Homo sapiens: one gene and its partner. The protein of the gene in region 2 interacts with the protein of the main gene of each other region in a biochemical or structural test. Each region holds a gene or a part of one and is shown on either strand. Other genes may lie near its edges. The genes, in order: SLC9A1 and CA2.

Region 1 (5,101 bases), on a different chromosome or scaffold from region 2:
TGGAGTGCGGGCTGGGCCCTTGGTTGCAGAAGGAGGAACAGGGAGATAGGGAGCAGCTGGGCCTCAAGTCTCTGCCCCCCATCAGCCCCTTCTCCCTGTGCCAGTGCCCAGGGGCTCCCTCTGCCCCAGGAGGCCGCCAGGGTCTAGCCATAGGAAGGTGTGGTGTGAGCAGCTGGGAGCCTGAGGAGGGGGCATCATGCCATCTCTGCCTCCATTTGAAACCTATCCCAGGCATAGGTCCCAGGTGGGATTAGAGAAGGGGGCTCAGCCGGACACAGGCAAGGCTTCGAGATACCCAGAGTCAGGGCCGCTGGGTTCGATGAGTGGAGTGTGGGCGCCACCTCCTGGCTGCTCATGGAACCACAGGGCTGGACCCAGCAGGGCTGCAGCTACGGGAGGGAGTGGGGCTAGTCAGAGGTCTTGGTAGGGAAGGCGCCCCACAGCGAGGCTTGACTTGGCCCTGGGCCCCTTTCAGTTCCTGGACCACCTTCTGACAGGCATCGAAGACATCTGTGGCCACTACGGTCACCACCACTGGAAGGACAAGTAGGTGGCAGGCCTGGTGGGCAGGCAGGGAGGGGCAGGCAAGGGTCTCCTGGGCCTGGGCATCTCCCCACTCCTGGAAGCTGGCGCCATCCGTCTCCCTCCTCCTCCCACCAGGCTCAACCGGTTTAATAAGAAATATGTGAAGAAGTGTCTGATAGCTGGCGAGCGCTCCAAGGAGCCCCAGCTCATTGCCTTCTACCACAAGATGGAGATGAAGCAGGCCATCGAGCTGGTGGAGAGCGGGGGCATGGGCAAGATCCCCTCTGCCGTCTCCACCGTCTCCATGCAGTGAGTGCTGGGGCAACCAGGCAGCTTCTGCTCCCACACACCGGCCCCTCAAGCCCGGTTGGAGGTGGCCACCTGGGGGGCGGGGTCTTCTGTTGTCCTGTTGGGGCGGACAAGAGAGCTGTGGGCTCGCACCAAGGACCTGAGGCTTTGGCGCCCACCTGGGTCATCCCTAGGGTGACTTCCTTCTGGCCAAACCTGGGAGGCACCAGGATCCCAAGAATCTTGGGGACCTAACCGATGCCCTATTGCCCCAGGAACATCCACCCCAAGTCCCTGCCTTCCGAGCGCATCCTGCCAGCACTGTCCAAGGACAAGGAGGAGGAGATCCGCAAAATCCTGAGGAACAACTTGCAGAAGACCAGGCAGCGGGTGAGGGCCTGCTCCCCAGCCCGACCCCCAGGGTACAGGAGCCCTTCAGCCCCTCTCTACGGCAGCCCTGCCCTGCCCGTGCCCCTCGGCACCCACCCCAGGACTGGCCCGGCCTCCAGCACTGCCCCCACCCCTCCATGAGCAGAGCCTTCCGGGGCCCGCACTGCCCTGACGCTGTCCCTCCCACAGCTGCGGTCCTACAACAGACACACGCTGGTGGCAGACCCCTACGAGGAAGCCTGGAACCAGATGCTGCTCCGGAGGCAGAAGGCCCGGCAGCTGGAGCAGAAGGTAGCCTCTGCCTTCCTCTGGGAATCTGTATCCCACCCCACTCGCCCAAGCTCCGCCACAGCCTCTAAGGAAATGTACCCATTCTAGGAACAGGGTTTGGCTTTCGAGGGGCTTTTAGCAGTGTAAGGGCATGGAGAGCCATGAGTTCTAAGCAAGGGATTGGCGTGGGGTTGTGGGGCATGGCCTGGGTTAGGGCAGTGGCAGGGGACAGAGGAATGGGTGGATTTAAGGCTGAGCAGTGTAGGTGTATTCAGGGAGGCTGTGACAGGAGCCTGGGATGAGCCCTTAGGAGCTCCTGAGGGGCCAGTACGGGTGCCCACACAGGCACAAGGGAGGGGGAGCAAGCGCCCTGCATATACGAAAGGTGGGGTGTGCACTGGCCGGGTTCTGTCCTGAGGGGCTCCCTCTGCCCAGCTGCCTGTGCTCACCCCGTCTGTCCTCTCTGTCAGATCAACAACTACCTGACGGTGCCAGCCCACAAGCTGGACTCACCCACCATGTCTCGGGCCCGCATCGGCTCAGGTAAGGGCCTGGCGAGGGGCCTCAGGACTGGGCACTCTGAGCTGCCACCTCCTGAGGATGGGGCTCCACAGGAACAGTCCTCAGCCACTGGGAGGACAGGCCTGGCCCTCGCTGACCTCAGGATCCCCTCCCAAGCCATGAGCTGCTTCTACGTCAGGGGCCATCCCTAGGGAGAGAGACGTTCCGGGCGAGGACTGTGTGGGGAGCTGGGAGAGCCACGGTGCCTGGCAGGAAGGCAGGGTATCTGCCCCATCGAGACCCCCAACACGTGTGGGGAACGTGAGGGCAGGGCCCCAGGGCAGACTGACTCAGGGAGGAGCCCCAGGCCTTGGCCTGTGGAGGGACACCTCTGGGAGCCCCTGTCAAAGGAGAGGGCCACAGTCTGAGGAAGAGAAGCTGTGGGGTGGAAGGTCGCAGAGGCCTGCTTCTGAGGCCTGTTGGGACCGGGACGGCTGTGCTCATGAGAAGGCCTGAAGGAGGCACTGACGCGGCCGAGTGGCACGTGCTGGGCCGGGCTCCAGAGCGGAACCCAGCTTGTGCCTTGCTCTTGGTCCCCAGACCCACTGGCCTATGAGCCGAAGGAGGACCTGCCTGTCATCACCATCGACCCGGCTTCCCCGCAGTCACCCGAGTCTGTGGACCTGGTGAATGAAGAGCTGAAGGGCAAAGTCTTAGGGTTGAGCCGGGATCCTGCAAAGGTGGCTGAGGAGGACGAGGACGACGATGGGGGCATCATGATGCGGAGCAAGGAGACTTCGTCCCCAGGAACCGACGATGTCTTCACCCCCGCGCCCAGTGACAGCCCCAGCTCCCAGAGGATACAGCGCTGCCTCAGTGACCCAGGCCCACACCCTGAGCCTGGGGAGGGAGAACCGTTCTTCCCCAAGGGGCAGTAACACCAGGGCCAGCAGGCAGCGCCTGTCCCCTCACAGACTCTTCCACCAGAGCAGGGGCTGCTGGGGGCTCCCCTTGCCCTTCCTGACCCGGATTGGCCCTGCCCCTCCCCCTACCGCATGGCAGCTGGGCCCACAGCCCCCACCCCAGCACAGCTCCTCCCCTGCCGCCTCCCGGGAAGCATCCTCCCCACCAGAGCTGCCTCCCCAATCCATTTGGCAGAACTGCTGGGGCTGGTGAGGCCGGCCCTGCCCCTCCCTAGATCCAGGCTTCTCCCGGACCTGGACTAGGGCCTCGGAGGCTCCTCCCTCTGCCTCATCCTCCTCCTCATTCAGACCAATCTTAGTTTCTAACCAAAGAGTCTCTGGCTCAGCTGTGGTCCCACCCAGGAAGGGAGGGAGCTGAGGCCTCCCTTGAGTAGGCCCTGCTTTATCAGGGGACAAACCAGGGGTACCAGGCACATGGCTGGGGGAGGGACTGCTGACCCACCAAGGTCTCACACTCCTCCTGCCAGCTCTGTCACCCTGGCCACCACCCAACCTGTCCTTACTCAGAGCTGCGGGCTGAGGGCATCTCTGAGTGTCTCTGCCTGGAGCAGGGGTGGTTTCTACGGTGACAGTGACGTGACTCAGAGCTTTTCGAACTGTGCTCCCACGGGGACCACTGGGCCCCTCAGGGGAAGCTGCTAGGGGAAGGACTGGCCGTGGCTCCAGAATGTGCTGCCTTTTTAAGTTTTGTTTGTTCACACTCCTATATATGATTGTTTGCACAGAGGGCGCTCCTGTTTTTAAAACATTTTGAAAACCCCTGGCTGAACAGTGCTCTGCCTCTAACTCCCTCCTCACACTCCAGAATTACCCTTCCTCATCTGTGCCTGTCTGTCCAACCCCTCCCCCACGTCTCTCTGCCTGCTGGGCTCTTAACTGTTGCTCGAAGACTGTGACATCAGAAGTAACTCCCACTCCTAATCAAGAGTCTCTCCAGCCTCACAGATGCTGGCCTCTTGGCACCTGCCTAGCTCTTGGGCCTGACCTCCAGTCCTGCTGGCCTGCTCTTACTTCCCCCACCCTGGGTTTGGCCCCTGGAACCTTTCCCTTGTGTGTACCACACCCTGCCTGCTGTGGAGCCCATTGTGGAGGCGGTGGGGGGGAGAAGGCCTCCCCTGAGGATCCCCTGTCCCCTGGGGCTGGTGGATTGGGCAGAATCCTGGGCCCCCAGAGACCTTTGCCCACACACACTCCTTCCCCTTGTCCCTGGGGCACTCCCCCAGGATTGTGCAATAGTCAGAGTGTCCCTTTTTGCAGGGGACTGGGCCATGGGTCCTCGGCCCATCTGTCCATCCTCCTCTCCATGCAAGTGCTGTTTGGGCAGGAGTCACCATGCAAGGGTGACATCGACAACCACGTACCAAGCCACCGCAGCTGCTGCCACTCTGCTGCCTGTACAGAAGAAACTGAATCTTTTTCATATTCTAATAAATCAATGTGAGTTTTTAATAGAGTCAAGGGCTGCTTTCTGGGGACGAGGGTCTTTAGGAGGGAGGGTGGCCTGAGGGCGTGAAGTACTTAGTTCAAAGGCTGGCACAGAAACACTTCATGGCTGTCAGCTGCTGGGGTGGTTGTTCCCACATGCCAGGCACTGAGATACCACAATGAGCTAAGCAGGACGTGCCCTGCCCCGCGGGGGAGAGCGGCACTAACCAGTGCCCAGTGTTTGTGCAAGAGGTGAAAAAGAGGCAGAGGGGAGGGAGGGACGGCGAGGAGGACCCTCCTGAGTCCCGAGTGAGTGAGATCCCAGGAGGGGACTGAAGAAGGAGCCAAGGCTTCCGGGTGGAAAAGGACCCAGAAAGTTCCCAAACATTGTAACTGGGAGCTGTGCCCACGAACACTGGGACCTGAGAAAAGGCCGGGTGGCTGGGTCAGAGTGACAGGGGAGGCAAGGATGGGGCCGCGTGCTCCATGGTTAAGATTTTGCTCTTAACCGTGGGAAGACCAAAAGGGCAGTGGGAAGTCACTGAAGCCCTCAAGTTCTCACCTGTAAAGTGGGGACAGTGACCCCTGCATGAGATAAGCTCAGGTGTGTACAAACTGAGCCTCCCTAATCAGAAAACCCAACACAACGCCATGAATGGAGAATGCACACCTGACCTCATGAGACAGTCAAAACTTTGCTGCATGTGCAATATTTAAAA
Region 2 (7,411 bases):
GTTGTTTATTTTGAGTCATTTATTGTACAGTACCCCCATCCATCCCCATGTAAACTCTGTGAGGGCAGGAGTCATGTTGATCTGGTTTATGGCTATAGCCTCTGTGCTGATGCCTGACACATAATAGCATTCAGAATGATTCATTGAGTGAATGGATGATGAGACAAGTTATCTTGTGTAGCTCACCTAGCACATAGAAAATATTAAGCACAAAATAGGAGCTGAGAAACATGTAACGGTAGTAATGATAACTGACATTGATCAAGCTCTAATTATTGGCACTAGGTTAAATCCTTCACACACTGTATCATCTTAGTCCTCACCACAACTCTGTGAGGTAAGTATTATTATTATCCTAGTTTTATAGATGAGGAAACTGAATCTTAGCACAATCAAGAAATTTGCCCAAAGTCACAAAGCTAGTAAATTAACCCAGATTCAAAACCAACCTAATTTCAGCACAATGTTATTTGCTAACTATAATCTGTAACAAAATTATTTACTAACTTCTGCAAAGTGAAACTGCCATTATCTCCATTTGGATTTTTCAAAGTTTATAATTTCAAGGAGTACTATGTGAGTAACTACTATATGTATCTTGGGACTCAGGCTAGGTAAAGGGTACTAGGTGCCTAAGATACAGAGATAAATAATGTGACACAGTACTCAACTTCAGGGGGCACAGTTTAGGAAGAAAAACATAAGCGTGGTAGAATGGACATCTCCATGACCCAAACACTCCTCTGTCCTCTCACAAAAAAAAACAAAACAAAACAAACAAAAAAACACCTCCTGCTGTGGAGACTCATTCCTCTTAAATGTTTCCCATGAACCTGGCCCAGGTGTTTAATTTTGCATTCCTTAAATTATATTCTAACTGTTTAGCACTGTCTAGGAGGGACTGAATAGCCATCATTTACTGAGTGCCTACACGTGACAGGTGATTTATCTATGCTCACTGACTGAATTCTTACAACAATGAGGTGAGTGTCATTATTCCTGCTTTACAAATGAGCAGTCAACAGCTTATTGGGGCATTGGATTATAACCCAATGATTACAATAGAGTGTCTGATTACAATGCAGAATTGCCAATATTAGGATAGAAGGATGTGTATGCAAAGACCTATGGGAGCCCCAAGAAACAAATGGCTCTTGGCCTTCATAGATATTTATTTATTTTTATTTTGTTTGAGACAGTGTCTTCCTGTTTCCCAGTCTGGAGTGCAGTCGCATGATCATGGCTCACTGCAGCCTCAACCTCCTGGGTTCCGATCTGCCGACCTTAGCCTCCTAAGCAGCTGGGACTACAGGGGCACACCACCATGCCTGGCTAACTTCTTATTTTTTGTAAAGATGGGGTTTTGCCATGTTGCCCAGGCTGGTCTTGAGCTCCTGACCTCAAGCGATCCGCCTGCCTTGGCCTCCCAAAGTGCTGGGATTACAGGCGGGAGCCACTGAGTCCAGCCCCAGATATCTACTTAAACACTATAATGGTAACAAATATGAGAATATCTGGCTTTTTATTAGCTTTTTAATTAAATATTTAATAAATAATGTGTATCTCACCTTGTAAAATATTTTAACAATATCTTTACATTTTTTGAGAAAAAGCAAATACTTTCACATTTTTACTAAGAATAATATGTTAGAAGCTTTTTTATTATAATAATTGGAACACAGACTTTAAGTTTTTTTACATTACATTTTCCTGATATACTGCCTGAATTTTTTTTTTTCTGGGGCAAAGAAAAGTACTTTTCTTAAGCTACTGTCAGTTCCTTTACTTAAGATTATTCTGAAATGAACCCATCCTTCCCTCTAATGGAAAGATAGGTACATAATAAGATAAGCACTTTTTTTATTTGAACAAATCCAGTATTAGAGTAGTCTTTTGCAGCTAGTGAATCATGACAGCCTGCTAAGAAGAATGCCTTCAGTAAAATAAAGTTAGGTTGGGACTGACCAACATGAATGCATAAAGTTAACTCCATTAAAAAAAATTGACCAGGAAAATAAAACAATGCTAAGCCAACCACTGTAATACCAAAAACGCTGCTAAAAAATTTAGATTGCTTCTGAGTAACCAAAGGTGAACCACTCTCCACCCTGTGGTGAACATGTGACACTCTCCCTAACAGCAGCTCTGTGGGGAGGGCTTGCTCCCACTGAGAATTAATTCACTTTCCAGAAGTGAGAGATAAGGAAAAATTCCCATGACAATAATCCATTTGGTGAACTGCAGTTTGGTGGTGTTTGAAGTTTTACGCATATTTAAGAATCAAACATGCTCTTACTTCATCCCTGTTAGGAAAGCCACAATCCAGTTTCACGGAAAATGAAAGACAAGGATTCCTGCTGATCAAATCGCCTGGCTCCCTCCACAGAATCCCGGGAAGCCACTCTACATTCACAAACTTTGCACTCAATTCTTGGCACCTATCAACGCCATATCTCCAGGGCCAAGTGAAGAGTCTCATAGCAACTAAGTTAATATTTGAAAATTATGTAAAGAAACAAAATTACATCAATGGGCCCCAACAGATACAATGCACCTACAGAGGCACAAATAAAAGCTTCTTCTTTGCTACAAACTCCATTTTGTAATGGTCCTAAAAATTTAAAAACTTTATTGCTGCTTTCTTGCCTAAGAATTCCCTGTGACATCAACCCAAAACCCACATAAGCAGAAGTACACAATTTTCTAGAATCTTAGAACAAGTAAGTCTAAACATGAATCATATTTGTTTGGATGAAATTGACTGAAATAAATAGTAAAGAGTGATTTTGAGATACATATTGCAAAAATGTCCACTAATAACTTATCCTTGTATTTATCTGTATATTTTCAAAGGTAAGTAATGTGATGTCAAGGCCGACACAATCACATTAAACTGTGTCCTGCTTCCCCAACTGTAACTCTAATACTATTGCCCTCAGAGATTGCAGAGACCACAGAACCGAACTCCTTCCCACAAACCCCCGGATTTTTCTGTGGCAAAATCCCTTGTAGGAAATGAATTCTCTCTATATCTCAAAACAGCCTCACTTACCCAGTAGGCCCTGTAAGCACAGTGTCTCAGGTCCACAATACTTTTAGATGCCCAGGAAAATGTTTCCTTTTAAAATAAGAACAAAAAAGAAAAAAATTAGGTGTTGGTTAAAGAAAATGTTTAAATATATAATATTAAGATATTTATCTTTATGTCAGTGTTGGTATAAATGCGTGTTTATGAAAAAGGGACCCACCAAGGTGAAATGCCGTAGGACCCACAAATGTCATAATGCTGGCTGGCCTCAAAATGTCCTTCCTATTAAACTATTTTGAATGATTCCTAGGTATGCCAGATGCCAATTTTTCTTGGCCAGCCAGGGAACGTCTCATGTCTTTGGAAGAAATTATCTTTCTCTTACTGGATTCTTCTGAGAAAAGTGATTTGTTAAAAGTTTTGGTTATTTCAAATCAATATGTACTCAACTAGGACGTCTCCTCACCCACGTTAATTTTTTAAAGAGGAGGAAAGTAGGAGAAGATGAGCGCTTCATGTAAGGCTCTGCCAGCCTACGAGGAAATGCAATCCTCCAGGCTCGCCCGAGCGTGGGCTGCGGGCAGGGGACTGTGGGGCCGTTGTCTCGTTTTATTCCACGGCCGTGCAGCAGAGGGCGCGTGCCTCTCAGCACTCATGCTGCGCGCTCCCCTGCGCCTCTAGGATCGTATCCCTATTTGCCCCAAGGTCATAGCTCCTAACCCAGCTTGCCAGCCCCAGGCCGGGGACACCAGAGACTGAGCCCTTCGCGCTGGAGACCCCGGCGCGGGTGGGGCGGGAGGGCTCCGGGGCCAAGAGACAGGTCACAATGGGGACAGGGGACGAAAGGCGCCGGGGGTCCGGGTCCCGAGCAGTCCCCGCCGCCGCCAGACTCCGCAGCCGGGAGGGGGATGGGGTGCGCGTAGAGGCTCCGCGGCCCGGGTTGGACGGAGGAGCCCAGGAGCCACCGCAGCCGCCGCACGCCCAGAGCTCCGAGCTTCGCTGCCAGCCCAGGACACCGGGGCCCTGCCGTGGGCCGAGGGGAGCCGGGCGGCGGGAGAGGAGCCCCGGAGCCCCGGAGCCCCGGAGCCCCGCCGGGCGCCAGCCGAGAGGGCGTTTTCCCCGCCCCCGGAGACTCGCCCGCCCGGCCCGCCCCGCCCCGAGCGCGGGGAGTTCACCTCCGCCCGTCACCACCTCCCCTTGTCGCCTAGGTCCACCCGAGCCCCCTCCCCCGGGCCGCCCCCGAGCACGAAGTTGGCGGGAGCCTATAAAAGCTGGTGCCGGCGCGACCCGCGGACACACAGTGCAGGCGCCCAAGCCGCCGCCGCCAGATCGGTGCCGATTCCTGCCCTGCCCCGACCGCCAGCGCGACCATGTCCCATCACTGGGGGTACGGCAAACACAACGGTGAGTGCCGGCGACGGCCAGCGCGGGGGCGCCCCGATCCCCGATCCCCGATCCCCGATCCCCGAGCCCGGATGCCGGCCCGGGGCCCGCAGCGCCCGCACATGCTGTTTACCGCGGCCGCGGGGAGTGCTGGAGGCTCAGGTGCGCCCCGGGCGCTCGCTCCGCTCGCGGCTCCGCGGCGCCGGGGATGTCCCCCTTGCCCCAGCTGCGAGGCCACTGTGGAGGAATCCCCGCGTCCGCCGGAGGCGCGTAGGGCCCGAGGGAGGGGAGGCGCAGCCCTGGCCGCGGGACCCGAGGACAGTCCCTCCCGGGTCCCGACCTGGGGATCATTTTAACCGGACCTAGGAGGAGGCGGGAAAGGGTTGTAACGGAAAATTCTAGTTGTTGATCGCAGAGAAATTAAGAGACTCCCCTCCCCCCTCCCCCACCTTCCACCCCCACCCCACCCCTCCAGCTTCAGCACCACCTGTGGCTAAGGCGCTCAGCACGAACTGTCCCGGGGCATTTTCCAGTGCTGGTTTGAATCCATGGCTCTGATTTCCGAGTTTTCCCTTCATCTCTCGACTTCTAATGTTAGGGGGTCGGACATCAGGAATCGGGTTTTATCTTGGCCTCAGATCTGGTTCTTCGGAGCCAGCGGAGCAGAGGAGCATGCGTCTGGCGCACCTAGCGCATCTTTGGAGGGTGTGGGGCTTCCCAGGTAGTGGGGAACCCTGACGGTTAAAGGTGGGGTGGGCCCGGGCCTGGGCAGTGAGGAAAGGATCCAGACCTCCTTGAATGTCTTAAGTGAGCTTGCATATCCCAAAATCGCAACCACAAGCCCTGACATTAGTGTCTGCCCGATTTCAGTTGCTGAATTTCAGTAAAACGACCTTAAAATAGCTAATATTTATATAGCACTCAGTGATCTAAGAGCTTTACATATATCGATTCTAATTCTTACAGCGACATCTATGAGGTAGATTTCTAATTATCCCATATTACAAATGTGGAAACTGAGGCACAGATTACGTGTTTTCCCAAAATTTAGCCCATTGTTAAGTGATGCTTCTAAAATTGGAACTGAGCAGATTGGCTCCGGAATGATTGCTCTTCTCTAGGGGTCTGGGTGTACCTTTCCCCACAATGGGGGATTCACATGTCTTCTTTCCCCCAGGACCTGAGCACTGGCATAAGGACTTCCCCATTGCCAAGGGAGAGCGCCAGTCCCCTGTTGACATCGACACTCATACAGCCAAGTATGACCCTTCCCTGAAGCCCCTGTCTGTTTCCTATGATCAAGCAACTTCCCTGAGGATCCTCAACAATGGTCATGCTTTCAACGTGGAGTTTGATGACTCTCAGGACAAAGCAGGTCAGTGTTTAGAAAATAACTTGTGTCTTTTAGCCAGTAGCTGTTTTCCGAGCTTAATGGAAGGAGCCAGGAACAGTGGCAGGAACCCTCTTAATAATACAGTTTGTCTCAGGACTCAAGGATGCCACCCTGATCATTTTCATTAGGTCTCAGATTCTGAGAAGTAGGCTAATTAGTTTGAAGTGTCCCGGGGCCGTTTCTTCCCTGTAAAACCCTTGGCTTCTATGAAGGCCATTGAATAACTGCGATATGCCTGTGAAAAATCACAAAAGGTGCAAAGTCCCCTCGCAATAAAGATCAGTCACGATGAGATTTGCACCAATTGAACTTTTAAGATTGTAAAATATTTTGTCTTGCAGAGCTGATGCATATCCATTAAAAAGTATATCTTAGTGAGCCTTATCTTCAAGTTAGCAGCGAGAAGAGTAACAAAAACGTGCCAATTTAAAATACTGAAATTCTGGGAAAATGTTTTACTTATGAGTATTTCTTAGTATTGGGCTAGTGTGATAAAGATGGCAGCATGTTTTGATATCTACTCAGAAATTCATTTCACAAACGAAGATGTTTTAGAGTTGGTGAACATACCTGGCCCATTACTGACAAAACCAATTACCGTATTTATTGGTAATAGAGCTGTTTACAGGATGCTCACTGTAAAAAAAAAAAAAAAAAGAAAGAGAAAGAAGAAAAAAAATCCTGCTTTTTTTTTTTTATCTCTCTCTCTTTTGAAACAAGAGAACAATCCCATTCACACATAGTAGCTGCCTTCTTTGCTAAGCAGTTAATTTAATTGCCAGTGCCCTATTTTCCTGAGTGCTTTCCTCTGAAGGTCATAGAATGAAATGGTGCTGCAAACACATTTTGTTTGGTGGTGGTGTGGGAGTGAGGGGAGTGGTGGAACAAAATGAGAAAGTTTTGGAGTAGTGACCTACGGTACTAATATATTATATAATATGTAATTATAACCATTTAGTCAGGTAGACTATTCTTTGTCAGCAGCTATCCTATATAGTCAACTTGGTTTTGAAAAAAGAATTCTTCCCTCCTTTCAACTTTAAAAAAATTTGCAAACACCTGGCTTTCTGAAATGGTGATTCTGGAAGACAATTTGATGGGGGATAATGTGGAGATCATCTGAGAAATGTTTTCAACCTACCTGTGCCTGTCTGTGTGCACCCCTCCCCAGTACACACATACATACATACATACACACACACACACACACACACACACTTACAATCATACTCACACTTTCTGGCATAGTATGATGATTTATTAGAATCAAGTAAAGGTTGTACATTGAAAACAGTTCGGTGATTCTGCTACATTGCTTTCCCAAGCATTCCTCTCACTCCAAAGGAACAGTGCTCATATAATTAAATTAAACAATTTTTTTCTTGTAAAGAATACTGTATATTTATAACAAGACAAGGCCAAAGGTCTCAAGGTATTACACATACAGAAAGAATACTATAACATTTCACGTCTAGTCATTTACAAACCAAAAGAAGTGAGCTACTTTAGTCTGTAGCTGTACTTTTTTAAAGAGCCACAATGATGTCATTGTTTTCAATGGATGTAATGTCTGCCAAATTATGTATCTCATTGGATGCTACATAGAA

What was found.
Region 1: the proteins of CA2 (region 2) and SLC9A1 form a complex in vitro, tested with the Homo sapiens proteins (one study listed by BioGRID).

What each region holds. Positions count from the first base shown.
Region 1 is NC_000001.11:27,098,118-27,103,218, reverse strand, and holds the end of SLC9A1 (sodium/hydrogen exchanger 1), read left to right. Parts: intron 1-475; coding exon 476-546; intron 547-660; coding exon 661-834; intron 835-1,088; coding exon 1,089-1,203; intron 1,204-1,392; coding exon 1,393-1,494; intron 1,495-1,943; coding exon 1,944-2,016; intron 2,017-2,574; coding exon 2,575-2,912; 3' UTR 2,913-4,410; downstream 4,411-5,101. UniProt on the Homo sapiens protein: Electroneutral Na(+) /H(+) antiporter that extrudes Na(+) in exchange for external protons driven by the inward sodium ion chemical gradient, protecting cells from acidification that occurs from metabolism.
Region 2 is NC_000008.11:85,459,684-85,467,094, forward strand, and holds the start of CA2 (carbonic anhydrase 2), read left to right. Parts: upstream 1-4,323; 5' UTR 4,324-4,398; coding exon 4,399-4,432; intron 4,433-4,544; exon of another isoform or gene 4,545-4,650; intron 4,651-4,898; exon of another isoform or gene 4,899-5,232; intron 5,233-5,588; coding exon 5,589-5,786; intron 5,787-7,411. UniProt on the Homo sapiens protein: Catalyzes the reversible hydration of carbon dioxide. Can also hydrate cyanamide to urea. Stimulates the chloride-bicarbonate exchange activity of SLC26A6. Essential for bone resorption and osteoclast differentiation.